Linked DNA regions of Homo sapiens: all the other regions are linked to region 4. Evidence: fine-mapped expression QTL. A gene starts in region 4. Each other region holds a variant in brackets. All regions are shown on one strand. Distances are from middle to middle. Region 1 holds the start of LOC101927342 (a long non-coding RNA gene). Region 2 overlaps ST6GALNAC3 (ST6 N-acetylgalactosaminide alpha-2,6-sialyltransferase 3). Region 3 holds the start of LOC124904200. Region 4 holds the start of ST6GALNAC3 (ST6 N-acetylgalactosaminide alpha-2,6-sialyltransferase 3). Region 5 overlaps LOC124904200.

Region 1 (6,173 bases), 63 kb before region 4:
CAGAAGAAGTCTAATGAGATATTACTAGTTTTAAAATATCCTAACAGGCTTACTTTCAAACAGGACTTAGAGATAAAGATCAGGATTGTGACTAGCTTGGGAGGTTTGTATGCAGTACAAGAAAATCTATACAAATTGGGGAAAAGGGCACCACTGAAATCTCTCCATTATGAAATACCACTGAGACATTAGACTCAGCTCACCTCTGTTCTGAGGCAAATAGTACCAAAATGTCATCTAATATTTAGCGGTGACATGAATTTCTGTGGTATTTCAGGCTATTTATTGCAAAAATTTATATATTTATATTTTTTCCAAACACTGGGGAGTTTCAGTAAAGGCTTCATTCTCCGCCTTCCTCCCTCTCTCTTCCCACCCTCATTTCCTTTTTCTCTCACTCTGATTCTAGGTCCTTCTCTTGTTAATCTTTCGAATCCTTGGTTCTTATTCCAGCAACAGCGTGGAGGTGGGCAATGTGCATTGACATACTTCATCTTCATTTCTTTTTATGTTCATGGGAATCTTCATAGCACATTGATCTGATGCTTTCTATAAGTCTATTATAAAATGTTGATGGGATTTTGTGGGTCTTCCTGATACTAGACAGATCTTCTGAAATTTAGTTATTCTTTTTTGGTTTGTTTACAAGATAAAAACCATCTGAGTGTCTGGGGCCCAAGGCCTAAAAACCTCAACATCAGGGAACTGTAGTAGTCACCGCTCACCATGTCCTTTTCTTCTTCTTGTCCTTGTTCTTATTTTTTCTTTTTTTCCAGCAAAAATTGGTTACTTTGCTTCTGTCACCTATTGAAAGAACTGACTCTTGATAGCAGGAATGAACCAAAGAATCTTTTGATTGTTTTAAGACAAAAAACCTTGAATGATTACAGCTAAGACTACAACAAAGTGAAAAGATTTTGCAAAGCCCAGATAAGATAACACTGAAATCAATATCACTAAACATTTTCAGTAATTCCCTCTATCACAAAGCTTTCTGTGAACCTCTCCACTGAAATAAATCCTTTTATCTTTAGTACCTCTCTCACCTTACCTGTACCTCTCTTCTAAGACTGATTTCATTCTGGTTGACTGTATAGGCTTTGGGCTGTGTTTTATTCATCTCCATATTCTGGTACCTAGTATAGAGCTAAGAGGTACATAGCACATGTTAAGTTAGCACATGACTACAAAGTTTTAGGCCTTTAGCACATGTTAAGTTAGCACACGACTACAAAGTTTTAGGCATTTAGGCCTCACTTACACAATAAATATTTACTGAGTATCTACTCAGTACCAAGCACAGTTCTGGGCACTGGGATATACTGTGATAAGTAGGACTGTCGAAGTCTCTGCCCTCATGGAGCTTTCACTCTAGTGGGAGAGACTGATAATACACAAATAATATGGAATATAATGTCAGGCAGTGAAATGGCAATGGAGAAATAAGGATAAGAGGATAAAGAGGATGGGTGGGATGAAGGTAGAGCACTATTTTGTGAGAACTCAGAGATGACAAAGGGGTAAATGAAGCCATGAAAATATCTGAGGAAGGAGCACTCTAGGCAGAGGGAATAACATGAGTGGAAGAGCAAGAAGGCCAATGTGACCAACAGGAATGCTCAGAGAGGAGGTTGAGACCAACAGAACGGGATCATATGGGATCTTGTAGGTCATACAATAGTATATTTTTAGTATGGTGGGAAACCAATGGAGGGTTTGGACAAGCAATGCACATGATAAGGAAGTTCATTTTAAAAAGGTTGTCCTGATTGCAATATTCAGAATGGATTATAGTGGGATACAAGTGGATGCAACAAAACAGATTTGGGGAAAGTAACTTCAGTCTAAGTTGATTAGAGTATATGTGATTAGGGTGGTTAACAGTGGTTAGATTCCCAATACAGTTTGGAGTTCAAATTATCAGGGCTTATTTTGACCTATTAAAATTCTCCTAGAAGGTATGCACTTTACAGAAGTTACACTGAAGTGAAGGCTGATACTTGACTGGTCAGGCTATAATCTAACACTGTGGTTCTCAAATTTCTTGGTTCCAAGACTATACTCAAATATTATTGAAGATCCCAGAGAGTTTTTTTTTATGTGGATTAGATCTACTGATAAATATATATTTTTAACATATTGGTTGATTCATTTAAAACCAACAATAATAAACTTAATAAACCAATTATATGTTAACAGAAATAACATAATTTTGTGAAAACTATTTTTTAAAACAAAAACATTAGTGAACATAATGGTATTGCTTTACAGTTTTGCTAATTTCTTTAATATCAGAAGACAGCTGGATTCTCATTTCTGCTTCTGCATTCAGTCTATTGTGATATAGCATATCATGTAACTTCTGAAAAACTTCACTGTACACAGGTAAGATAATTTTAAATCAAGTTTAGACTAAAGCTGCCTCCTTATATATTTTAAGTTCAGCCTAAAGGTTTCTCTGTACGTCGTGAACTATCACCTAAATGGAATTGTAAACAGACTGTGGCCTACTGTTGTGCCAATCACTGAGTTTTGGCCAATCAAATGTGGCCAACTGTCCAAATGAGGCAAATGCTGAGTTGTAACCAACTCAGCTGTTTCTGCACCTCATGTCCGTTTTCTGTAGGTCACTTTCCTTTTTCCATCCATTCATCTTCCTCCATGTGGCTATGCTGGAGTCTCCAAGCCTACTCTAGGTTGGGACACTGCCTGATTCACGAATTGTTCTTTCTCAATTAAACTCTTTTAAATTTAACTTGGCTAAATTTTTTTTAAAACAAGAATGAGGGTAAAAAAGATCAATAACATATTAGTATTACTATTTTTAGATGCTGACCTCACAGACTCCCTGAAAGGATCTCCATGACCTCTATGGTTCCTTAGACTGCACTTTGAGAACTATTGACGTACAGGGAAAAATGCTCTTGGTGGTAAGATTACAACTCTATATAAAAGAGATAAAAGCATCAGTCCCATGAATTAGCATGATAAAACCATTATAAAATGTCTTTATCACTTGTAATCACCAATGCTCTATAGAAAACCCGACCACAATTTAAAGATTGTTTTACATTAGGGGTCCATAACCTTTTAATTCCGAAAACAC[T/C]AAGGGGTAAGCATGAAACAGCAAAGATTCTGACATAGGAGAACAAAGCAAGGAAAAAAAAAAAGAAAAAGAAACAGGCCGGGCAAGGTGGCTCGTGCCTGTAATCCCAGCACTTTGGGAGGTCAGGAGTTCGAGACCAGCCTGGCCAACATGATGAAACCCTGTCTCTACTAAAAATACGAAAATTAGCCAGGCATGATGGTGCATGTAATCCCAGCTACTCAGGAGGCTGAGGCAGGAGAATTGCTTGAACCTTGGAAGAGGAGTTTGCGGTGAGCCGAGATAGTACCACTGCACTCCAGCCTGGGTGACAGTCCAAGACTCTGTCTCAAAAAAAAAATTAATAAAAGAAACAGAAACAGACTTATAGACCAATGATAAAGAGGTGACAAAAGAGAAAGAGAAAGAATTTCTGTTGCGGGAGTGGGAGACTAATGATAAAAATTGCCTTTGGATGGCTCAGTGGTTCTCATGTTCATTAGCCATTCTGATCTAACAAGTCAGCTTTGCTCAGGCAGCCTGGTTCTGAACTGTGTGCCCTAAGGCCTTCCCCACAGAGGGGGGCCCAAGGAGGAGACACCATACATCTGAAGCCATATGTTGGTCTAACATTACTCCATAGGTTGCAAAAATAATCTCCACCTAAGCTTTTCCATCTCCAATGCCAACACTTCATTTCTCCAAGTGAAATTCTGGCTTTAATACTATATGTGTCATAAAATCCACCGCAGGTGAGTGTGACTGAATATAAAATAACCCAGTGCCCCATTTGCCTGGATCAGAAATCCAGGGAGTATACTCAGACAACCCCAGGAGTGAGGGAAAAGGGAGAAACTTTATCCTCTCCAAACTAAGCATCAAGCAAAACTCAGCTTGTCTTTCCAGAAAACACAATGGTTTGGTACATGACATTCAACAGCAAAACTCTACTAACACTCAACTTTTGCCAAAAGGAGCCACAGGAATCCACAACATCCTTACGTGGCCTTAAATATCAAAGTAATGTGTAAGATATCAGAATACGTCTTAATGAGCCAGGCACAAGTTTCCAAAGAAGTTCTGCTGAGTTTTACTCAGTCTTATAGAACACAAGCCCAGCTGCTGCTAAAAGTAAGGCAGCTTGAAATTTCTGTGCTGGGTGAAAGGTGGCCATAATGTCAGTGGTCTGCTTATTCCCCTTGTGGGAATGGGACTTGGTACTCTGCTATGCATCTGACACCATTGAGAAAGGTTATTTGAGCCCAGTGGGGCTGGTAGCAAAAGTCTAAATGCCTACCAGCTTACAGCTAGAACATATGTACCCCCATTGGATTGTCATAGTGTTGTGTACAATGTACCTGTTTTTTTAATCTCCAAAACTTCCTCTTTTTCTTTCTCTTTTTAAAAATGCAAATGAGAATGGCACTGGCATCTCAGGGTTTTAAAGAGCAGAGAATGCCTATTGTGCAGTGATGTGTGACTGAATCCAGCAAGGAGGTTAGAGACACATTGTCAGGAGCTAGCTGCAAATCCATGGGCTTAAGAAGGCCATGACTTATTTACAACTTCTTATTTGCCACTGGTGTCATTTGAGTTTTTATGGGTTTTAATAAAGAGTAATATACATATATTGTTCTCTTTTGGAAAACAATCATGTCTGAAATGTTCCTGAGATTCTTGTAACAGTTATCACTTTGTTTTTGCAGTTCCAGTTAAGCACAGAATAAAATCTGGACTGTGTCAGTTTGTAAAGATCTTATGTCTACTTGGTCATCAGGTAAAATTCCTTTCTGTGTTGTGAAAAGAGGCAGACTGAAGTCATTAGTCACTGCCAATGTTGTATCAGTTCTTGCTGGTTTACTCTCATAGCACTGGAGACATTAATAAAATGGGCTGCCAAGGCCCCTTACAGGCAAACTTGTAAAGTAGGAAGCAATTCTCTTTGGTTGATTCCTTCTCAAAGGCAGTGGGTGTTGTAGCATCAGTGAAAAGAATTAAGATCATTGGCTTTGCAATCAGAGATATCTATGATTAGATTCCGTTTCTTCGGAATTGGTTCAACAAATATTTAGTAAGTGCCTACTAAGTTCTGGCCTCTTTTCCAGGCATTGAGATGCAATAGTGGGAAGAAAACAAACATGGGTGCCTGTCTGCTAGTTGGGGAGGCAGCCACTAGCATCCCGGTGACAGGCTTAAGGCTCAGCCTTATGCTGAGCAGTTTTTTACCTTTCAGCTGCAAACCTTCCTTTCTGTACAGTACTACATGGGACTGGCCTAGGACTCTTTCTCTTTTGCCCACTGGCTTCCTGTAAGGGTCTATGTATCAGTCTGTCTGCATGCTGCTGATAAAGATATACCCAAGACGGGGCAATTTATGAAAGAAAGAGGTTTATTGGACTTACTGTTCCACATGGCTGGGGAGGCCTAAAGGTCATGGCAGAAGGCAAGGGGGAGCAAGTCACATCTTACGTGGATGGCAGCAGGCAGAGAGCTTGTGCAGGGAAACTCCTGTTTCTAAAACCATCAGATCTTGTGAGACCCATTCACTATCACAAGAACAGCATGGAAAAGACCCAGCCGCATGATTCAATCATCTCCCACAACAGGTGGGAATTATGGGAACTACAAGATGAAATTTGGGTGGGGACACAGAGCCAAACCACATCAGTCTGCAAATAGGGATGCTAGAGAGAGACTAGCATCTAGTGGGAGAAGGGGCTTTCTTCTTGTTTTTTTGTTGTTCCTCTCAGCATCATCCCAACAGTGACCTTGGCCTGACAGCAGCAGTTGGTTCCAGTCTCCAGCCTCTTTTGAAAACCTGAGAGCCAGCCTGTTGGTATGTTCTCAGAAGTAATGGCAACAGCTAGGTCATGCTCCTCTTCAGAGGTCTGAGCCCCAGCTCTTTCTCAGAGCTTCTGGGCTGTGATTATTCCAACCTCTTCCCTGAACAGCAGCTGCTCCTGCTGTTGTACATCAGAGTTACCCCGGCGAGCCCTGTTGTCTATTCAGCCCTCCACCATCTGGAAAACCAAGTCCCTATAGTAGATTTTATGTTAAAATGCTTCATGCGGTTTTTGTTTTCTTGACA
Region 2 (5,000 bases), 31 kb after region 4:
TCTTTTTGCCTGAAGAACATCATTCACTATTTCCTTTATTGTAGGTCTGTTGGTAACAAATTCTTTTGTTTTTTGTTTGAAGTGCTTTATTTTACTATCACTCTTAGGGATATTTCCTCTGGGCATAAAATTCTAGGCTATCTGTTATGTTCTTTCAATACTTAAAAGATATTTTATTTACTTCTGGCTTTCTTTATTTCTGTTGATAAGTTAGATAAAAATCCAATTTTTGTTTCTTTTTCACCCTTATGCTGATTTTTAGTTTTTTTTTTTTTTTCTTTGTGGTTTTAGCAGTTTTATTGTAATTGGCCTGGGTGAAGTTTTCTTTTTACATTTCCTGCTTGGGGTTTCTAGGATTCTTTGTCTTGGCTCCTTCTGAGGCCTGATATCTTTCTTCAGTTTTGGAAAGTTCTCAGGCATCATTCATCTTGTCAAATATTGCTTTTCCCCATTCAGTCTCTTCTTTTCCATTTCCATGGGCTATAGTTACATATGTGTTATACCTCCTCACTGTATCCTGTAGTGTCTTATCCTGTATTTTCCATCCTTTTGTCTTTCTATACTTTATTCTAGTTATTTTCTTCTGGCTTCTAATTCCTGCTTCTGCTGTGTCTGTTCTTCCTTTATTAAGTTATTAATTTTAGTTAATGTATTTTTAGGCCTAAAATTTTCATTCGACTCTCTCTGTTTCTGAGTTTCTCATTTTTATGAGTTCCATAGGATGGCGTAGCAAATTACTAGAGACTGGGTAGCCTAGACAACAGAAATGTATTCTCTCACTGTTCAGGAGGCTGGAGGTCAAGGTATCAGCAGCCACACTCCCTCCAAAGGCTCTAGGGAAGAATCCACCCCTTGCCTCTTTTAGTTTCTAGTGGCTGTTGGCCTTCCTTTGCTTGTAGCTATCTCTCTGTCCCTCCATTTCACATGGCCTTCTCCTCTCTGTGTCTGTCTTAAAATTTCTTCTGCCAATCTCTTATAAGAATACATGTGATTGCATTCAGGGTTCATCTTGATAATTTAAGGTAAGTCCTCCTCTCAGCACCCTTAATTCAGTCACATCTTTTTCCATATAATGTATTATTTGCTCCTTTGCTACATAAGGTAATATTCACAAGTCTCAGAGATTAAAATGTGGACATATCTTTTTTGGGGCCACCTTTTAGCCTGCTATACCATTGTACGTTGAAATTCTCAACTTTATAATTTTCTCTTTCTATAAATAGGAAGACTTTTTACAAAAAGTCTGTTTCAGATAATTCTAGTATCTGGAGGCTTGTGGGTGGGTTTCTATTTCTGTTATTTCTGCTGGTTTTGTTTATGTCTTCTTATCTCCTTATGTGCTTGGTTATTTTTAATTGTGTGTGAGACAGTATATTCGTACAATTTTTTACAGATATAATTTGAGGTCAAGATTGAGGTTTCTCAACCCCAGAAGGGATTTACATTTGCTTCTGCAAGCACTTGGGGCATTAGAATTCTGGAAGCATCTGATTTTAGTTTCAGATATTGAGATGGCTTGAAGATGATCCATAGACCTCTGCAAGGGCCTCTTAGTTCTCTATTCTCCCTTCCTGCTAGGACACAGCTCTTTGAGGAGCCCAGTCCAAAACAAATGATACACCTGGTCAGTTCCCCCATCCTTAGCAGGACTTAAACACAAATCTTTATTTCCTTGGCTCCTCAATATGTCGTTAGGGGAGAAATAGGCCCAGAATGCCAGCTTCTTTTGTCCAGACTTCTTCCTTCCCTTGATCCTGGCCTGACGCTTTTTTTTTTTTTTTTAGATTTGAGGTGTTTTAAAGCATTTAATAAATGCTTTTTCTCTCTTTTACTTATCTTCAATGGGAAGGTGTATTAGTCTGTTTTCACACTACTGATAAAGACATACCTGAGACTGGGCAATTTACAAAAGAAAAAGGTTTATTGGACTTACAGTTCCACAGGGCTGGGGAGGCCTTACAATCGTGGTGGAAGGTGAAAGGCATGCCTCACCTGCGGCAGACAAGAGAAGAGAGCTTGGGCAGGCAAAGTCCCCTTTTTAAAACCATCAGATCTTGTGAGACTTATTCACTATCATGAAAACAACACGGGAAAGACCTACCTCCATGATTCAGTTACCTCCCACTGGGTCCCTCCCACAACACGTGGGAATTCAAGATGAGATTTGGTGGGGAAACAGCCAAATCATATCAAAAGTTTTATCTGGCATATCTAGTGAGTCATTATCAGAAGCAGTAGTCTCTCTGAAGCTTTTCTCATCTATCCACCTTACATTTTTATGATTAAAAATTCCAAAAATTACAGAAGTGGAGGGAATAGTCCAAATATTCCCCCATCACTCAAATGCAACTCTTATCAAGATTTTGTCACAATTTGCATGGAAATATTCACAACCTATAAGAAGAGAAAGTTTTAAAGCAAGGCAATATCTCAACTCACAGCCATCCACTTACCTCTAATGGCCAGCATCAGAGACAAAGACTTCTGCCTTGGTTACTGCTGTCCTGAGCTTCTAGCACAGGTGTGCCCCTAGATGATTTCAGTGAGCTATTGTTAAATGAATGTGAATTCACTGAAGAACCACAGACTGTGGGAGCTGGAGGAAGTCTTGGCTTGTCGTAATGAACCACAGATTACAGATGGAGATGCTGA[C/T]ATCCTGAGATTAGGTCACAGAGGTGCATGGGAGAGTTAGGCCAAGGTCTCAACTCAGGGCTCTCTCCACTTTTCCACACTTCCTCCTCATTTTGCTAGCTCATTTAATTACCACTTTTTCTTCCTTTCTGATAACACTGAAGTTTAAGAGCATTTCATTACAAGTGTGATGATACAATGTGGTATTAAGACATGACAAGGCAAGTTTTATTGGCCATTACTATTTGCCTCAAGTGAGTGGCAAAGCCTTTGACCACTCGAGGCATATATTAATAGCCCTATAAAATACATCCTGGATTGCTAGTGCTATTACCGTCTGGCTATTACATTTAAAAAAATATTGTACAAATACCACTTCAAATAATTTTCTTACTCTTTTTTTTAAACTGGAACGATTAGCTTTTTTTATGAGAGACAATTCTTCACATGATGGAGAAAATAGAATTGTCAGGTAACATGGAAAGAGTATAAGCTTTGGAGTCGTACCAAACTGTGTGCAGGTATTTGCTCTGCTATTTATCATCACTGTGACATTAGGCACTTTTCTTAAACTCTCTGGGTCTATTTTCTTCTCTGTCAAATGACAACAAGAATGCTTGTCTTTTAGAATTCATATGTATATGAAAACACCTGGCATAGGGCCTTGAACATAATGAGTGGTCAATAAATCTTATATTTTTGTTGTTGTTATTATTGTCATGATAATGAAATCCAATGGGAAATTTTTTCTTTTAATTAGTTGATTTATTTGTAAGACTAAAAATGTTGTTGTTATAACAGATCCTTGTCTTGCAGGGCAGTCTTTCTTTGTTTCCTCTCTAGCCCTCATCCCTTGGAAAAATGAGCTGAACCATGTTGGTTGGTGCAAGAGGGGCTGACAGAAGAGAGTTTTGATAAATCCACAAGATAACTTTGGAAACTCTTTGCCATTTTCCCTCCTACTCAATGCTGCTGGGACTTTGAGCTCGCTGAGGCAGTCTAAGGCTGTGCTTTGACTTCAGTGCTGTGCCTTGTGCTTGGGATAATTGTGTTTTCCATTTGATGGCCCCCAATGCTTTGTGTAGGAATTGGATGGTGCACCCATGCTCCTCAAATGCTGAAGCAGTCATGTCACTTGGTGGGGTGAGGTGGATCATCAGCAACAACATACTTTTCTTTTCTTTTTGAATTAAGCACACGGAAAAATCCATAATCTAAACATGAGGGACATTAAGTTTTGGATGGAAGAGAGTGAATTTTGCAACAATAACAACTAAAAACCCAGGACACAGAACAATTATTGAAAACAACTTGCTGAAGTATATAAATAAATAAAAGTGTCATTTCTGAAGTATCTTTCCTTCCCTAGGCTCACTGCCATTGTCATGGGAAAAGTGTGCATGGCAGCATTTACTCTGAGGTAATAACATGGATACATTTCCCGTTGCTCAAGACTTGTACATAGAGTCTGAAGACAAATTCTTCCTATCTTGCTGAGAAATTAACTTCTATTTTTCCATTCCTGTGAGCCAGAAGGGTAATTACCACATGCTGTTCAGTCATGAGTTTATGGAAAGAAACACAGGCTTCATTCAGGGTCTTCACCAACTGGGTGGGGTTGGGTTGGTCATGGAGAGAACTTACATTGTGGGTTTACAGCTGTACTGCAAACATTTCTTCAAGTCTGGAGCAAACTCAGCCCCTCTTTCCTGACTAACTTCTTCCCTGCCTAATCCAATGAAGACAATGGTTGATGAGAATAATAGCAGTTATTGCATATTAAGTATTAATCAGACATGTTATTCTTTAAACACACTTTTGCTTTTTTTTTTTTTTTTTATAATAATCAGGCATCCAATGAGATCTGTCCTCTTTTTATCCTCATTTCACTGAGAAGGAATGGTGGCTCTGAAGAGTTAAATAACTTGCCTAAGCTCACAATTTTAGAAGGTATGGCCAAGACTCAAACCCAGATTGGTCTGATTGTCAAAGTTGTGTTCTATTCTTAACCAATTTTCTACTTTCTTTGGTACCATGATTATCTCCTTGCCTTATAAATATTCTTGTATGTGGTATTATCTTTGTCTTATTATTCATAGTACACAGGGGCTTTTTTTCTTCCTACTTGCATTTCCAGTTCCTTCCTTATTAATCAGTGTGAGCTTTTTGCGATTGAGCCCTCTTTTCTCTTGCCCCACCCGCCAGCCCACCTCCTGTTCAAATACAGCCCTGCGGGTGAACACTATGGGCGACCCATGTGTGTGGGCTCATAGGAAGATGCAATGTGGAGAAGAATGGAAGCTTCTATGGCAGATCTACATTCTTTTTTCTGTCCTCTCCCTCTCTCTACACCCAATGTACTTTATTTT
Region 3 (5,489 bases), 34 kb before region 4:
GTGGAGGGGAGGAAGGTCTACTTGTTTATTTTCCATCTCCTGTGGAGTATTTGACATCTGGAAGTTCCAATTAGCATTTTTAAAGTTGTGTTTCAGATCACCCTTATGATTTTCAATTGGCATTAATCTGAGATGCCCCAGATGATCTTTTACACTTTCGTTAAACATTGTGATGATGCCTTTATAACTTCTTCAAATAGCTGAACCACTGGCCAAATTTTGAAAAGCAGATCATCAATCCAGAAAGTGTGACACTGTGTTCACACAACCAAGGATTGCAAATGATGCAATTTTAGCACCATATTCTTCATCTAAGACAACTTACCAGAATCCTTTGCATAAATTAATAGTTAAGGTTCTTTTTATAATTCTCTAGTGATCCACTAGTGCACCTTCTCTAGTGACTGACTATGCGCAGACATCAGTATCTACATAGAGTCTAATCAAGTTGTCCAGTTGATATGCTGAGATCCCTGGAAAAAACCAGGAATCTTCAGAAAAGCATTAGTTACCTCTAGAAGTGCTATTTCTTCCACTTTCTTTCTCATGTTACCAAATAGTTTCGCATTAGCTCTAAAGGAGGTAATCTACTTACTCTATCAGGTCCCTTATCTGTATTATCTGTGGCAAAATAATTCTGCTGACTTTGCTCTGAATAATTACCAAGAGCTCACTTAACATGGCTATAATTCTCTCCCCATCTGACTGAGGAATGTTCTTAAACTCCCTCAATCATTCCAGCCCACATTCTTTCAGTATAGCAACAGCGTGTCTGTAACTTTTGTTTCCTTTAATTCAGGATCATCAGAGTGGGTATAAAACAATGACCACCTTTCACAGAATGAACTATACTTACAGTGTTTAATATATATTATCTCATTTGATCCTTAGGACAAAAAGTTATATACATATATGTGTATCTATAAATGTATGTATTTATCGCTTTTTATAGGTAGTATTGAAACCACAGTTCAAGGGCAGTAGCCCAAGATTACTCCACTAGTGAGCAATAAACTTGGGATTTTAAACACAGGCTTTGGTTTCAAAAGTCAATTTTTTTAAGGCTCATAAAATAATTCTTTGGCTTAGCAAAGCCCCTTGCTTATTTATATATACCACTTTAAACATATTAAGTATATTAGTTAGAAACATTTTGAATACTAGTGACAAAAAAAAGTAACTCAAGCTAGTTTAGTAAAAAATGGAAATTTATCAGTTCAGTTGTCTGCAGGAGAAAGCAGGGGTGTGGCTGAGCACAGGCCCATGGAGCTAGGGACTCTTGTTCTCTCAGGCCTCTCTTTCTCTCCCTCTTTTTCTTTCCTTTTCTTTTGCACACCACCTCCCCATTCCCCGCTTTTTTTTTCCAGACAAGCTTCTTTACATAATGAGAAGCAAAACCTTCAGCAACATCTCTAGCTGGTTTGGGTTAGATGCCCATCTCTGGACTCATCAATTGTGGCCAAAACAACGGGGCCCTATCGTGTAAAGCCCCCTTTAGAACCTCCGCATGTCTAGAATCAGGGAGAGACGAGATTCCCCAAAGAGGGAGGTTAACATTCCCAGAAGGAGGGAATTATATGATTTCAACTTATATTCTCATATGGATAGAAATGCATTTACCACACTCCTAATGTAAATCAGAATTTCTGATTTTCTGATGCTCTAACCACATTTCCTAATGCTACATTGCACCCAGCACAATGTCTGGCACCCAGAGATGTTCAACTGCTATTCTTCAAAGTATAAATACATTTCACCCATTTTTACTTTCATTCTACTGCTTCATTAAAAATATTTTGTATTTCCTTACATTCCATCTGGAAGTCTATAACTTAGTACCTGTGTAATAAGGGATTTGGCACTATCACCTCTCTAAAATAACATGTTAAAATGGTAAGCATTCTATGGTTTTCTTGGGGAGACTTTTTTTTTTTTTTTCTTTGAGACGGAGTCTTGCTCTGTCGCTCAGGCTGGAGTGCAGTGGTACAATCTCGGCTCACTGCAACCTCCACTTCCCTGGCTCAAGCAATTCCCCTGCCTCAGCCTCCCGAGTAGCTGGATTACAGGCGCACGTCACCACACCCGGCTAATTTTTTTGTATTTTTAGTAGAGAAGGGGCCTCACCGTGTTGGCCACACATGAACTCCTGACCTCAGGCAATCCACCAGCCTCGGCCTCCCAAAGTGCTGGGATTACAGGCGTGAGCCTCCGCGCCCGGCCAGGGAGACATATTTATATGTAAAAAGCAAATGTATCTTGTCATTGGATGCTCATCCACAAGAGTCACAAACCCCATTCTAACACCAGCTTTGTGGTTTACTAAGTGATATCAATTTCCCAGCGTGGCAGATGACAATGTGTGTATGTAACTTGAATAAAAGCCAGGGCAAAGAGTTGAAACCAGCCTCATTGTCTGGGTATTACTGGAAGTTCTTGTTATCACGGCAGAGGAAATCAAGGATGCGGACACTCCAAAGGTGAGGTTAGAGCAGAAGTTTAATAAGCGAAAGGAAGAAAGCTCTCGGGAGCAGAGAGGGGTCCCAGAAAGATGGGTTGCCATTTTACAATGAAATGCAAGGGTTTTTATAGACAAGCTGGTGGGGAGGGTGTTTCATTTACATAAGGCTCAAATTTCTGACAGTTCCCACCCCACTTTTTCTAGTGCTCATGCGGGCTCCTTAGTCTGAGTTACTCCATGTTGCCTATCTCTTCCCACTGCGCATGTGTGAAAAAGGCCAGGAGGCGGGACCCTCTACAGTGGACGCTCCTGGTCCAGGGTAGCTCGTCTTATCAGTGCTGCTGCAGGCACTCCCTGCTGTGCAAACCTCCTTGTCTGAGTATTTCCAAGAAGGGAGAGGACTGTGCTTACTGGGGCCCACTGTATGTCTGTATGTCACACAGGAGGCCCCTTTCTGTGTTAGAAGCTGCTTTTTTGTTAGAAGGGAATTCTACTTAGGACCCTTGCCCTATCTGCCTAGTTGATTTCTTTCTCTCTCCTCTCACAGAGTGTCACAGAAAGAACTCCAATCCATCAAGCAAAAGTAATTAACAGCAATTCAAATCTTTATTGGACTCTTAGAAAATAAACAAGGAGATCTAATTTGTAGCTCCCACATAGATTTTTGTCTCCACTCCTGTTGTTTTTAATTAATTCAATAATATTTACTAAATGTCTCCTATGTGTCAGACGTGCTTCCAGTGCCCATAGAGCCTGCATGTCTCCACTCCCCGAGTTCCCCTCTCCACTCCTTGGATTCAACTCTCAACTTCAAACTGAGTTTTGAAGTCAGTCAGGAGTGGGGGAGGGCGGTTTTTTTTTTTTTTTTTTTTTTTTTGAGACGGAGTTTTGCTCTTGACACCCAAGCTTGAGTACAATCACGCGATCTTGGCTCACTGCAACCTCCTCCTCCC[G/A]GGTTCAAGAAATTCTCCTGCCTCAGCCTCCCAAGTAGCCAGGATTACAGGCGCCTGCCACTACTCCTGGGTTCACTTTTTTTTTTTTTGTAATTTTAGTAAGACGAGGTTTCGCCATGCTGGCCAGGCTGATCTTGAACTCCTGACCTCAGGTGATCCACCCGCCTCTGCCTCCCAAAGTGCTGGGAGTACAGGCGTGAGCCACTGCGCCTGGCCGGGAGGGTGGCTCTTGACTTACAGGGCCTCCCCTCCCCTCCAAGGTCTTCTTTAATTCTGCACATTATTTTAATTATTTCTAACAAGTACCTTGATCTTCATTTGTGAAATCTAGTGACCCAAAGGCAGCTCCCAACCTCCCTGGGAGTTGATAGGGGTGGGGTTGGGAAGAGAGGGGAGAGAGGAAGAGCTGCTCTTCCCAAGAAGGGTTTTTGTTTTGTTTTGTGTTTATTTGTTTTGGCTTTTGGTTTTTAGTAGATGGGGGATGTACACGTGAGAGGTGAGGGAGAGAGCAGACTGCAAACCCTGTAACTGATCCATGTATTATCTGTTCTTTTAACTGAGTAACATGCTTTTCAAAAGTGTTTTTCCATGTTTCAGAGACAGAAAAGGGGAGAAAAAGAAGAAGAAAAGGGAGAGGAAAAGGTAAAAGAAAAGAAGAGAATGAATTGCAGCTGAGGAAGTGGAAGAGCGAGAAGCGCTTCCAGATACCAGGTAACCTCTTTCTTTGACTCCTGATTTGCCACTCATCTCCCTAAATGCCTTAATGACCTGTCACACAGGTGACTCACATGAAGGCCACATGGTGTATGTTTCTCTTACCCCTGTCTGCTATTGAAGACATAGGATTTAGTTTTGGGAAGATGTGTGCTGGAGAAATAAAAAGCAGACACAGTGGTTGAATGCAAAATGAATCATAGGAATTATCCAGTAAAATGGCTTAAAATCATATTCCAGGCTCTGAAGTCATGGAAAGTCTCTCTTAATGCATTGGAACCTAATCTAGTAATTTCACCTGGGTTCCCCATCCAGGCATCTCTTTTCTAATTTGTTCAGAAGTAAACAAGGTAACAGCTTTTAAACAGCCAATTGCCATGGACATTGATAAAATCTACAGGTTTCATTACTTGATGTCCAAAGACATTTCGTCCTATTTACATCAAAAACACTTTGGAATTCTGAAAGACAGCAAGCCTTTATTTGAAAGAAATACACGTTGAAGTTCTTTAAGGATGAAAGCAGAACTGTCTTGGAGCTGATGCTAAAGCAGAGTGAGAAGACCATGTGTATTTTCAAATAAATTTTGAAAAACTCCTGAGACTTGGGAAAGGGTGTAATAGAACAGTGCCTATAACTGAGCCTTGCAGAAGCTTATCACAGCATAGAAGAAATTGATGGAAAACTCACATGGGCATCAGAAGTTTCCTTTTATTGGAAACTTTTGCAGTTTTGGAGACTCCTTATAAAGACCTGAGTTGTTAGCAGGCATCTAAATCTGGCACTAGAAACAATTGAGATGATTTTACAGTGTATCTGCCCAGATCCTCACTACTAGATTTTCTGGGTGTTTTCTTATTTTTGACACTTGCCTCAATCAAATTGAGGCAGTCTTTTAAATTTCTGTCTAAAATTAACTGGTATTTTCAGGTATATTGGCATCATTTTAAAATCCATTTATTTTTAAGAACATTTGAATGTGAAAAGAGATGTATATGCAAACTGTTGGATCAGGCAAGTTTCCTTCAGGCTGTCTGGATGTGTCTATCTATAGCATTTGGCACATACCTAGCTGTCACTCAAAAAAGATAGCTGATGTTCAAAGTTAATCTGAAGTACCTACTTGAAGTCTGCTTTATTTATTTTTTTAATTTGGCCAGTTCATTCTTGGGGAATGGAAAGGAAGGAAAATGGCCAGGCACAGTGGCTCATGCCTGTAATCCCAGCACTTTGAGAGGCCGAGATGGTCTGATCACTTGAGGTCAGGAGTTCAAGACCAGCCTGCAACATGGTGAAACCCCGTCTCTACTAAAAATACAAAAATTAGCCAGGTGTACTGGCATACACCTGTAATCCCAGCTACT
Region 4 (5,000 bases):
AGTCACATAATGTTAGAGCTGGAAAATTATGCTACACCTATGGATTTGACTAAGCTGTTCCTGTAGTTTGGCCAGTTTTAAAACAAAAAAATCCTGGCAACACACTCCTATCCTCCCAGCCCCAACAAATCTGGCTATCTCCATTCCCTGGTAGGTTCAAAACCTGTTTTTATTTCCATCCAAAAGCTTCCCCCCCACCCCCAGACATCGAGTGGTCCATCTAAAACAGTGATTGTTAATACTGTTTTGTAAATCTTCCAGTCCAGATTTATTCTAGAACTTGAGTTTGTTTTTAGATTGTTATAAATGTGCCTTTATTTCTAGCTGTTTGACATAACTTTTGGATGTTAATAAAAAAAATAACACCTTGGGAAGTATGGACATGGGTGGATAGAAATGTAATTGAGAAAGCCATATCCAAGTAGATTGAGGGAATTAGTAAAGGCCTCATCACGGCATACCCAAGTCATAACATGTTAAAAGTTTGCTCCGTTGGTGTTCATCCTCCTGAGACACCCAAGGCTGATGGCAATTATCCTATTCATCTTCTCCCACAAGTCTGTCTTTAGCGGAAGATTTTTTTCTTTACATAAAGAGCTATCATATAAAAAGTGCTCATAGTGCCAGAAATTGAGGTAAATGCAATTTGCAAACATTATTATCTCATTTAATTCTCTTGAGGATAGATAATATTAGATAAGGTAAGGATTAAAGAGAGGTTAAGAAACTTGATCAAGGACACCCAGCAGGGAAGTACTTAGCAGGGCTGTTCACTAGGGCCTGCTGTTTCTCTTTCCAGATGTACAGACTTTCTAGAGAGAACGATGTGCTCTGCCCACCCTCACCCCTTTGCTCTGCTGTTCTGCCAGGGACATGCAGGAGACGGAGGCCTTCCTCTTAACCGCAAGAGGCCTTCCTTTTTTACTAATATTCCTCAGCACAGACCCTTTACGGGTGTCGGGCTGGGGGACGGTCAGGTGTTTCTCTTTCTCCTTCCTGAGATCTTTGCTTCCAATTTGGCTAAGGCCCTTTCCATGTTATAGTATCATGTATCTCTTATTCTTGTCTTTCTCACTTAACTGTGAGCCCACCTTGATGTTAGATATTCTGAAAGTCATTCTCCTATCCCTGAAAGGTCTTCAATAAAGATTTTTCCTCCACTTAGTGGAAGGTGAATAAAGTTTATTCTTCCATTTAGTAGTGGCTCAATAAAAAAGTTTGTGGAATCAATCAAGGGATGAGTAAATGAATGAAATACTGAATTTTCCTGGCCTATGAAGGACCATGAGCTAAAGCAGCGGTTTAAAGTATATAGTCCCAAACAAAGAATTCTTACTAAAAACACACCGGATCTGTAAGGCAGAGGAGGGAGGGGCGGGAGGAAGAAGTCGAAGAGCAGGGTGTGGTATTCCAGGGAGACTGAAGACAGGAGCTTCCCATGGGACAGGCAGTTCATCCACAGGCTCAGCTTCTGCAACCTCCTTCCTGTGGTTACTCCTGCTCTCTAAGAATTCTGCATGTTCTCATCAAGAAAATACCAAATTCCTTGAAAGCCTGGATTCTGCCTTGTGGTTTGTGAGCCAATCTCATGACACCACCAGCCCACAGTGCTTTTCCTGATTCCATGGAGGCAAACTAGACGGAGCTTCTAGCAAGTGAAACTTCTTTTGGGTAGATATTTGGGGGCCGCTTTTAAAATTTTTCTGACAGACCAAGTGGTAAAAATCTGTGTGTGTACACGGAATGCTCTCTCCCTTCTGCAATGCGTTTACTCTCCTTGTAGAAATAACTGCTTCTCTTAGCCGGCTCTTGCTTGGAGCAGGGAAGAGCAAAGTCCTATCATGTACACATACACAGTTTATAAACATATACTGTACAATCAACATGTACATATATAATACAATATACACATGTGTGCATCCTGTATCTGTATACTGTATATCATGCATATACAATTTCATAAACAAGCTTGTACCAGGAAAAGGCAATAATTTATATATTATACACACATACATGTATATGTAAAATATGTACACACACACAAAATATACCATACAGAGTGTAAGGTTCATGACGTCTTTCTTTCGTTGATATTTGTGCTCACTTATTAGCGGTAAATTATTAATTTTAGATAAGCCCATCACAGAGTGAAGGCTCAATCCTTGAACAGCCCAGGGAGAACTTCGTTGCTACTTTTGAAAAGCCCTTTGATGTGCCCAAAGTCTCCAGAAGGGCGATGCCAAACCCACTCAACTTTGACAAAGTGTGAAACGTCTGTAAAAAGGAGTTCTCTGATGTGTGAGAGGAGACGGAACCGAGAAGAAAAGGCCGTACTCTGCCCCCCGCGGGACCCAGGTCCCCGCCTGCTGCAGAGCGCACTCTGCGCACGTCGAGCCGCGAAAGGTTCACAGAAGAAAACAAGAGAAAGAAGTAGCAGGCACTGAGGAGCCGCCGGCGCCGGCGCCCAGGACGGCACGTGACCCGGGGGCGGGGCCGCGCGGGCCGCGGGCCAGTGGATGGGGACGGGGGCGGGGCCGCGGCTCGGGGGGCGGGGTCTGTGGCGGCGCAGCTTACACCGCGGTCCCCTTATTTGGATCTGCGGGAATGTGGGCTGGAGAGGTCCTGCCGTGGTACCAGCCTCCAGCCTGCCCCCAGGACTGCCCCTGACCCAGGCGCGCCCGCTGCTCGGTGGCAGGAGGGCCGGCGGAGCGCCATGGCCTGCATCCTGAAGGTAACGACTTGGATCTGTGGCTCGGACGCGTGGTTGGCCAGCCCCTTGCTGCTCAGAGGCACGGAGTCAGCCGCGGTCCCACCGCATCCTCATCTCAGTTGTCTTTTCCTGGCATTGATTTTCTTTTTGTTCCTTTGGCAAATGCATATGGAGGGAGATTCTGAAACATGCAGCTGGCACAGCTTCTTTTCCCACCATTCCTGCCTCCTGCTCGCGCCTGCATTGAAGGAGCTGCAGACTGTTGGCTCCAGGGGAGAGCAGGGCTGTGTGCCGAATAATGGGGATGGTAGGGAGAGGAGGGGTGTTCCCGCGGGTCCCGCGGCTCTGTGGAGCCTGAGGCCTTTCAGGGGCCACGGGGAGGGGTGGAGTGGCTAGGCGTGAGTTGCTGGTGGTGAGGGGCATAGCGCTTTAAATGGAGGGAAGAGTGAGCGGAGGTGGGCTCTACTGTGCATTTGATCATGTGAAGACAGAAACTTCTGAGTTTACAGGTAGTCCCTTAGGAATGAGTTTTCTATGAGATCTGCTAGCTCTGTTTGCCCTTAGCTCTACTTTGGAAAAGTTCACACGAGGATGTATATGTTAGTAGAGAACCTCTCACTCTCTTTATGCTCATAAATTTGAATAGACAAAATGATTTTATGCTCTGCCAGAGTGCGCTCAGCCATCCCTTCTTTGTTGAGTTTTCTTTCTCCAAGACCGGATTCTTAGCCTCACCTGAGCATCTTTCTGGGTTCACAGACTTGTGGCCTCAGGTGGGAGAACTTGGTGTGAGGGCCTCACTTAAAAAGAACTTTCCATCCCACTGGTAGAGGCCTCCCCTGCCCTCGTTTTTTTTTTTGCACTACCTTTCTACAAGAACATAACCTGGATGCATGAATCAAAAACATGAACAGCATGAAAGTTTCCTGGGCCTTGACTGGAGAATGCAGAGACCTAGTTGTCCAAGCCTGGGGGAACTGTGTGACGATGGAAAATACCAGGAAACAATTCGTTGTTGTTGTGTTATTGTGAAGTAGCATTTATTTCTCTATAAGATGATATTAAGTCATCTACTGTGTTCTGGTTACCTGAATCGTCTTCTAACGTGCCTGGTGTCAATGATGAAAATAAGAGACTAACCTCGTAGAAGTTGTTTCCCCTTCTTTGCGTAAAGGAGATCAGAAGTTTCCTGTGAGCTTTCTGAACTTCCTCTTTTTGTTTCAGAACATTTTCCAGGACATGAGGAAATAATACATCAGTATTACAGTATGGGGTATTTGACCGGGAGGCTCTTAGCACAAGGACTGAAATATGAATATGAGTCATCTTTACTATTCATTGTGTTATTTGCTGAAAGGGACATTGAGGAGCATGATATTTATTGCTGGCCATCTTTTTCTGTTTTGGTTTCTCCCCTGCCTTGTCCTATACATGTGGTAAACATCTTTAATGCACATCCCAAACTACACATGAATCTGGTCCAATCTTTCTCTTCTAGCACTTCACACTGCTTTCAGACATTTGGGACATATCTGTCCACCTTATCTTCCCTCCACTGAAACTAATGTGGGCTTTAGACTCAGAAAGATATGTCTGGATGCTGGCTCTGCCCACTGCTACCTCTGTGATGTTGGACAAGTTACTTAAATGTCTCTGGGCCTTAGTTTCTTCAATATAAGATCAAAGTAGTGGCACCTGCTTCACAAGGTTGCTGTGGGAATGAAATAAGATAGGGTATGAAAAATACTTTGTGGCACAGGCATTTAATATGTGCCATTTTTTTCCTCTAACATATAATAATAAGTGCAGTTTGGTTGATCCTTACTATATCCTCAGTCTGTTTCTTATAACTATTATTTTTTATAAAATACAAAATGTTTTTTATTCTTTAATCTTTACATAAAACCCTGAAAGATAAGTATCATTGTTTTAAACCCCATTTTACAGATGAGAAAGTTGACGCTCCCTAGTTTAAGAGATTTGCCCAAGGCCACACAGGGTTAATGACAGAGTGATCCTGGATTTAGACCCAGATATGTCAACCTTCCATATACTTTACTGCTGTTCCAGTACTTTCCCAGGTGATGACTTTTAAGATGGCCTAATACCATTCAGTTCCAACCACCTTTGAGCACCTTTGAGCAATCCCCTTCTCTGGTCATGGTCTAGACAGTCTGGGCTGGATCTTTTTTCTTTGTTGTCTTTGAAAAGCTACACATGGAGCAGTGCAGAATACAGGTTTCAGTCCAGAGACCTGAGTTCAGTGCAAGCCTGGCTTCTTGCATATGAT
Region 5 (6,173 bases), 22 kb before region 4:
CGTGGATGATAAAATCTTCAGGAAGTTAATTTAAGAATGATACCATTTATTGTGCACTATTATGTCCAAGAAGTATTTACATTAGTTATCACTATTTTTTTTTGTTGTATGTGTGGTTTTTAAAAAAAATTTTTTAAATTATACTTTAAGTTCCGGGATACATGTGCAGAACGTGCAGGTTTATTACATAGGTATACACGTGCCATGGTGGTTTGCTGCACCCATCAACCCATCATCTACATTAGGTATTTCTTCTAATTCTATCCCTCCCCGCAAGCCCCCACCCACCGACAGACCCTGGTGTGTGATGTTCCTCTCCCTGTGTCCATGTGTTCTCATTGTTCAACTCCCACTTATAAGTGAGAATATGCGGTGTTTGGTTTTCTGTTTCTGTGTTAGTTTGCTGAGAATGATGGTTTCCAGCTTCATCCATGTCCCTCCAAAGGACATGAACTCATCCTTTTTAATGGCTGCATAGTATTCCATGGTGTGTATGTGCCACATTTTCTTAATCCAGTCTATCATTGATGGGCATTTTGGTTGGTTCCAAGTCTTTGCTATTGTGAGCAGTGCTGCAATAAACATAATGTGTGCATGTGTCTTTATAGCAGCATGATTTATAATCCTTTGGTTATATACCCAGTAATGGGATTGCTGGGTCAAATGGTATTTCTGGTTCTAGATTCTTGAGGAATTGTCATACTTCTACAATGGTTGAACTAATTTATACTTCCACCAACAGTGTAAAAGTGCTTCTATTTCTCCACATCCTCTCCAGCACCTGTTGTTTGCTGACTTTTTAATGATCGCCATTCTAACTGGCATGAGATGGTATCTCATTGTGGTTTTGATTTGCATTTCTCTAATGACCAGTGATGATGATCTTTTTTTCATATGTTTGTTGCCTGAATAAATGTCTTCTTTCGAGAAGTTTCTGTTCATATCCTTTGCCCACATTTTGATGGGGTTGTTGGTTTTTTTTTTTCTTGTAAACTTGTTTAAATTATTTGTAGATTCTGTATATTATCCCTTTGTCAGATGGATAGATTGCAAAAATTTTCTCCCATTCTGTAGGTTGCCTGTTCACTCTGATGATAGTTTCTTTTGCTGTGCAGGAGCTCTTTAGTTTAATTAGATCCCATTTGTGAATTTTGGCTTTTGTTGCCATTGCTTTTGGTGTTTTAGTCCTGAAGTCTTTGTGCATGTCCTGAATGGTATTGCTTAGGTTTTATTTAGGGTTTTTAGGTTTTAGGTCTTATGTTTAAGTCTTTAATCCATCTTGAGTTAATTTTTGTATAAGGTATAAGGAAGGGGTCCGGCTTCAGTTTTCTGCATATGGCTAGCCAGTTTTCCCAATACTATTTATTAAATAGGGACTCCTGTACCCATTGCTTGTTTTTGTCAGGTTTGTCAAAGATCAGATGGTTGTAGATGTGTGGTGTTATTTCTGAGGCCTCTATTCTGTTCCATCGGTCTATATAGCTGTTTTGGTTGCTATAGCCTTGTAGTATGGTTTGAAGTCAGGTAGCATAATGCCTCCAGCTTTGTTCTTTTTGGTTAGGATTGTCTTGGCTGTGCAGGCTCTTTTTTGGTTCCATATGAAGTTTAAAGTAGTTTTTTCTAATTCTTTGAAGAAAGTCAGTGCCCAAAGTAACTTACTGATTCAATGCTATCCCTATCAAGCTACCATTGTTATCACTAACTCTTACTGAAATCCTATAAGGTTGTCCCATCTACAGATGGAAAACTGTGGCTTAGTTTAGAAAGATTATCTTGCTGAAGACCATAGATCTAGAAAAAGTTTGGAGATTTAAAGCCAGGTGTGTTTGATTTAGGTTCTTTTCATGACACCACATGATCTTTGGAGGTTGAAGTCATAGAGAGCCACTTGCTATGACAGAGAGGAATCAACTAGAAGTTTACATATTCTCTTATTGGGTGCTTAGCATATGCCAGGCTTTGCGCCAAGCACCTAAGCTACAGCCATTGTGGACCAACAAATCTTTCCCTCAAAAACCTACTGTCTAGTCCTTCTGACACTGAAATCAAAGCTGCTTTTAGCCCACTGCCTATGAGAACATTTCTGACATATCTATTTATTTTGACTAAAAATGGTGCATAATCAGGCCATATTTCTGAAAATGTTAATTAGGAAAGCAATTTTCTGTTTTCATTAAGGACAAGTGTCTTGGGTGAGGAGAGGGAAGAATAAAAGTTAATATTTGGTGAAACACTGGGCCACACTAACCATCACATTAACCACGGGAAGAAAGTCAGCTTTGGGGTTTTAAGTGTTTAGAGGTCTCTTATTAAAAAAAAAAAAAGTTTATTTGAAGTTGCTATGGTTACATTTTATTCATAAAGGTAAAACAACTGAAAAAGTGGCCTAGAGAAATAATAATAAAGTCATGAGCCAACATTTGCCAAGTGCTCGCTGCATGCTCGGCACCACAACACATGCCTACATGTGTCATTTAATGTAATCCTCACGACAACCCCAGCAGATAGCCTTATAATTCTCATTTTACAGAGCAGAGTAAGGCACAGACAAGTACAGTTAACATGCCCAAGGTCCAACAGAAGAATGGGAATTTGAACCTAGGTAGTTTATGATCCAGGTTGATTAAATTCATTTAACAATTGC[T/G]CATTTGTCCCTTTATTTTGCTCATCTAAACACAGTATAGCACTCATTTCACTTAATTCAACAGAGAGTTTTGCTTCAAGCCTTCTAAAGTGTCATAATTACTCATTGTTATCACAAAACATGTATTTAGAACCAACCACATGCCAGGCCTCATACTAGCTGACCAATATACACAGTGTTTGGCAAAAGCTAAGGTAATGTTTATCTTTTAGGTTTGTGTTTTATGTAAGTCCCTACAATGTTATATCTTCTCATAATCTTTCTGCAGAAAATTACAAGCTGGCTGCAGAATAGCAATGAGTTATTCTTTTCTATTCTTTTGTGTAAGACATAATTCACGTTATGGAAAGGTCTGATTTCATAAACCTATGATTAGGTGAGGTAACATACAAACATGTAGATTCATTCAGGGTCTAGTTTTTACAGCTTTCTAAAGTCCATATGAGAACTCCAGTGTGTCTTCCTTTAAAAAATATATACCTTGTTTTTGGAAGATGATCTAGGGGGTAAGGTAAGATTGAGGTCACAGGAAACAAGGGTCCATGATAATTCAGTGCAAGGTGTTAGTTATTGTGGTTGTTGGCAGTCAGAGAGTGGTTAAGTGATGACCGTTGCAGCATCCTTCCTCTGGCAGCAGCAGGAGCTGGGTGACGCTGAGCTGCCTGTTTCCAGGCCACTCACTGTGGCTTTGATGTGCTGTGTCTGCAACTCATTCCCCAGTTCTGTTCTCCAGCATTTCATTGTCAGCCACGGCCAGGGTACCCCGCCGCCTCTCACTTCCATCACACAGCCAGCCCCAGGCAGACTGTTTTTAAAAACATAAGCCAGTCTTGCTTCTCTGCAGATGGAATGTTTTACGTGAGAAATAATCCAGCTGAGTGTTTGCTCCACAGTTTGAATAAGAATGAACTGGCCAGTGGCTTAGTAGGGATTCAGGTCAGGAATGTGTTCTGCTGTCAGAAGGGGAAGTTAATGGTGGAAATTTGTAAACTGCTGTTGTTGGGTTGACATAATATGTATGGTCTAGTAGGATTAGAAGTTGATTCTAGAGTTAGACACAGGTTGAAGTCCTGGTGTTGCTTTTCAGTAGCCACCCCTTGTGAGCCTCAGTTTTCCTTCCATGAAACTGAGGAAAAACTTGATGCAAGAAGTGAAGAGAGAATGCAGGTACAGTGTTTAACATATTGCCCGACAAATGCTCAGTTAATGCTGTCTATTTTTTTTTTTTTTTTGGTCATTTTGGTCTTTATTTTATGGTAAAGGGAAAGCAACCCACTGTTTTTAAATCTTCCGCAAAAGCATGGTTACCAACGGCCTAGAAAATGACAAATAGTGTTAACTCCTTCATATCAATACCCTTTCCACTAATATTGTTTCAAGTGGAGCCAGTATGATTATGCTTTGATTTGCTAGCATGATTAAGCATATAACAGTGTAAGAGTCAACTAACTGATGACTTTATCAGGGAAGCCTCCATTCTTATTTTAAATTTCCTATCTTCTTTTTTTATTTTTTTGAGACAATATCTCACTCTGTCACCCAGACTGGAGTGTAGTGGCTGTCGTAGCTCACTGCAGCTTCAGCCTCCTGGGCTCAAGCATCCTCCCATCTCAGCCTCCCAAGTACCTGGTACTCAGGCATGCACCACCATGCCTGGCTAATTTTTAAAAAATTTCTTGTAGAGACAGGGTCTCACTATGTTTCCCAGGCTGGTCTCAAACTCCAGGGCTCAAGCAATCCTCTTGCCTTGACCTCCCAAAGTGCTGGGATGATAGGCATGAGCCACTGCACTTGGACTGTCTTTGTAATTTTATCAGATTTACTTTAAATGCTTTGTCGTTTTAGTGACAGAAACATGTGCATTCATGCTTATTTTACTCTCTTGGTGTAATTTTCTTATATACAGCCCCTCTTTAGCCCTAACAGTACTTTCTGATTAAGTTTTCTTTTGTCTGGAATTAATATTGAAGCATCAGTTTTCTTTTCTGTGCAATGGAATAAACTAGTGATACACATAACATGGATGAATCTCAAAAAACATTAAGCAGAGTGAAGGAAGCCAGACACAAAGATTACATGCAGTCTAAAAGCATTTTTTAAAAGACTCTTGAAAAAATAAATCTAATTTATAGTGACAGAAAGCAGAGCAGTGGTTACTTGGGGCCAAGGGTGGGGTGGGGAAATTGACTGGGGAAGGAATAAAGGAAACCTTTCGTGGTGACAGAAATGTTCTGTATCTTGATTGTGGTGGTAGTTACAAGAGTGCGATCAAACAGTGTTCTTAAAATGGCTGTACTTTATTGTATATAAAGCATGTTGCAGTAAAGTTAAATAACAAAATTCTGATCGGATGGTTTCTGTCTTTTTTACAACATGGGTTTATTTAGCCTTAATTATTAACAACAGTTGCATACTCAAAGATTTCTAGATTGATAGCTATTTTCCCTCAACATTTAAAATACATTATTCTATTATCTACCTATTATTGCTGAGAAGACTGTCAGTTCCATTGTTACCGTGTCTTATTTTCTTCTCCCCGGAGCTTTGTTTACTTCTTGTTTTGGATGTTGTGCATTTTCAGTAAGATGTGTCTTGTTGTGTATTTGTATTTTTATTTATTTTGCTTAAATTTTGCTATGATTTATTACTAAATATAATGACTTCTTTCTTTAATTGTGGAAAGCTTTCAGACACTCTCTTTGGATATTGGTTCTCCAATCTCTCCATTCCTTCCTTTAGGAATTCCTATTAGATGTATGAATTAGACTCTTATTTTAACCTTTTAGTATCTTAATATCCCTTAGATATTTCATGTTTTTAATATCTCTTTTATTTGTGCTGCACTTGTGCTAAAATAATTTCCCTAGGTCTATCTTACATTTCATTAATTCTTTGTCACCTGTGTTGGGATTTCTATTTCAATGAGTATACTTTTTGTCACTATGATTTCAATTTCATCCTTTTCAAGCATGCCTATGTGTTTTTTAATATTTTCTACCTTTAGCTCTTTGGACATGTTAATCATGTTTATTTCTAAATCTCTTTCATTTTCTTCCATTATTCCAGGTGATGGTGTGCCAGTTCTGCTCTCTGCTGTATCTGTGTCCTGTTTCCTTATGTCGTTTGTAATTTTTGATCACAAGCACATTTTCAACAAGGTTTGTTTACCATGGGACCCCCATGAGGCCTGAACTACAGAAGTGGTTTGGGGTTTGCCTCTGCCAGGTCCCTGGAGGTTTCATTGGCCTTAGATTAATTTTTATGTTAAACTTCTGTGGTAAATTGTGTTTCTGGAGAAGACCACAACAATAGACCCTCTCCCAATAGCTCTTTTGTAATGTGATCTTGCCACTCCTCCATCAAGAGGTGGAGTTTATGATCCCTTCCCCTGATTCTGAGCTGCCTGTGACTGACTTTGATTGACAGAATGTGGCAGAAATGACACTGCATCACTTCCAAGACTGGCCTTATGAGACTCCCAACTTTTGCTTTCACTACTTGGAGAGCTCCCTTTTGGAGGCCAGTCATC

Evidence for each region. PIP is the estimated chance that this variant, and not a neighbour inherited with it, causes the effect. A credible set is the group of variants that fine-mapping cannot tell apart.
Region 1: its variant is the best candidate, but not a certain one, in a credible set for the expression of ST6GALNAC3 in whole blood (GTEx, PIP 0.76).
Region 2: its variant is the best candidate, but not a certain one, in a credible set for the expression of ST6GALNAC3 in whole blood (TOPMed, PIP 0.88).
Region 3: its variant is the best candidate, but not a certain one, in a credible set for the expression of ST6GALNAC3 in whole blood (INTERVAL, PIP 0.70).
Region 5: its variant is the best candidate, but not a certain one, in a credible set for the expression of ST6GALNAC3 in whole blood (INTERVAL, PIP 0.88).

The regions. Positions count from the first base shown.
Region 1 is chr1:76,008,469-76,014,641 of GRCh38, forward strand. LOC101927342 (a long non-coding RNA gene) reads left to right here and starts at 2,856. Exons shown (of 3, transcript NR_125939.1): 1 at 2,856-2,930; 2 at 4,792-4,862. The variant T/C (reference allele first, on the strand shown) is at 3,107.
Region 2 is chr1:76,102,845-76,107,844 of GRCh38, forward strand. All of the region lies in intron 1 of ST6GALNAC3 (ST6 N-acetylgalactosaminide alpha-2,6-sialyltransferase 3), which reads left to right. Among named protein-coding and RNA genes, the nearest start is that of ST6GALNAC3, 31 kb to the left of the region's middle. The variant C/T (reference allele first, on the strand shown) is at 2,653.
Region 3 is chr1:76,037,777-76,043,265 of GRCh38, forward strand. LOC124904200 reads left to right here and starts at 3,588. Exons shown (of 5, transcript XR_007066173.1): 1 at 3,588-3,907; 2 at 4,009-4,122. The variant G/A (reference allele first, on the strand shown) is at 3,412.
Region 4 is chr1:76,072,154-76,077,153 of GRCh38, forward strand. ST6GALNAC3 (ST6 N-acetylgalactosaminide alpha-2,6-sialyltransferase 3) reads left to right here and starts at 2,593. Exons shown (of 5, transcript NM_152996.4): 1 at 2,593-2,731. The coding sequence starts at 2,714. RefSeq lists a silencer at 2,394-2,593.
Region 5 is chr1:76,049,803-76,055,975 of GRCh38, forward strand. LOC124904200 reads left to right here. Exons shown (of 5, transcript XR_007066173.1): 3 at 5,711-5,802. Among named protein-coding and RNA genes, the nearest start is that of ST6GALNAC3, 22 kb to the right of the region's middle. RefSeq lists an enhancer at 2,949-3,449. The variant T/G (reference allele first, on the strand shown) is at 2,645.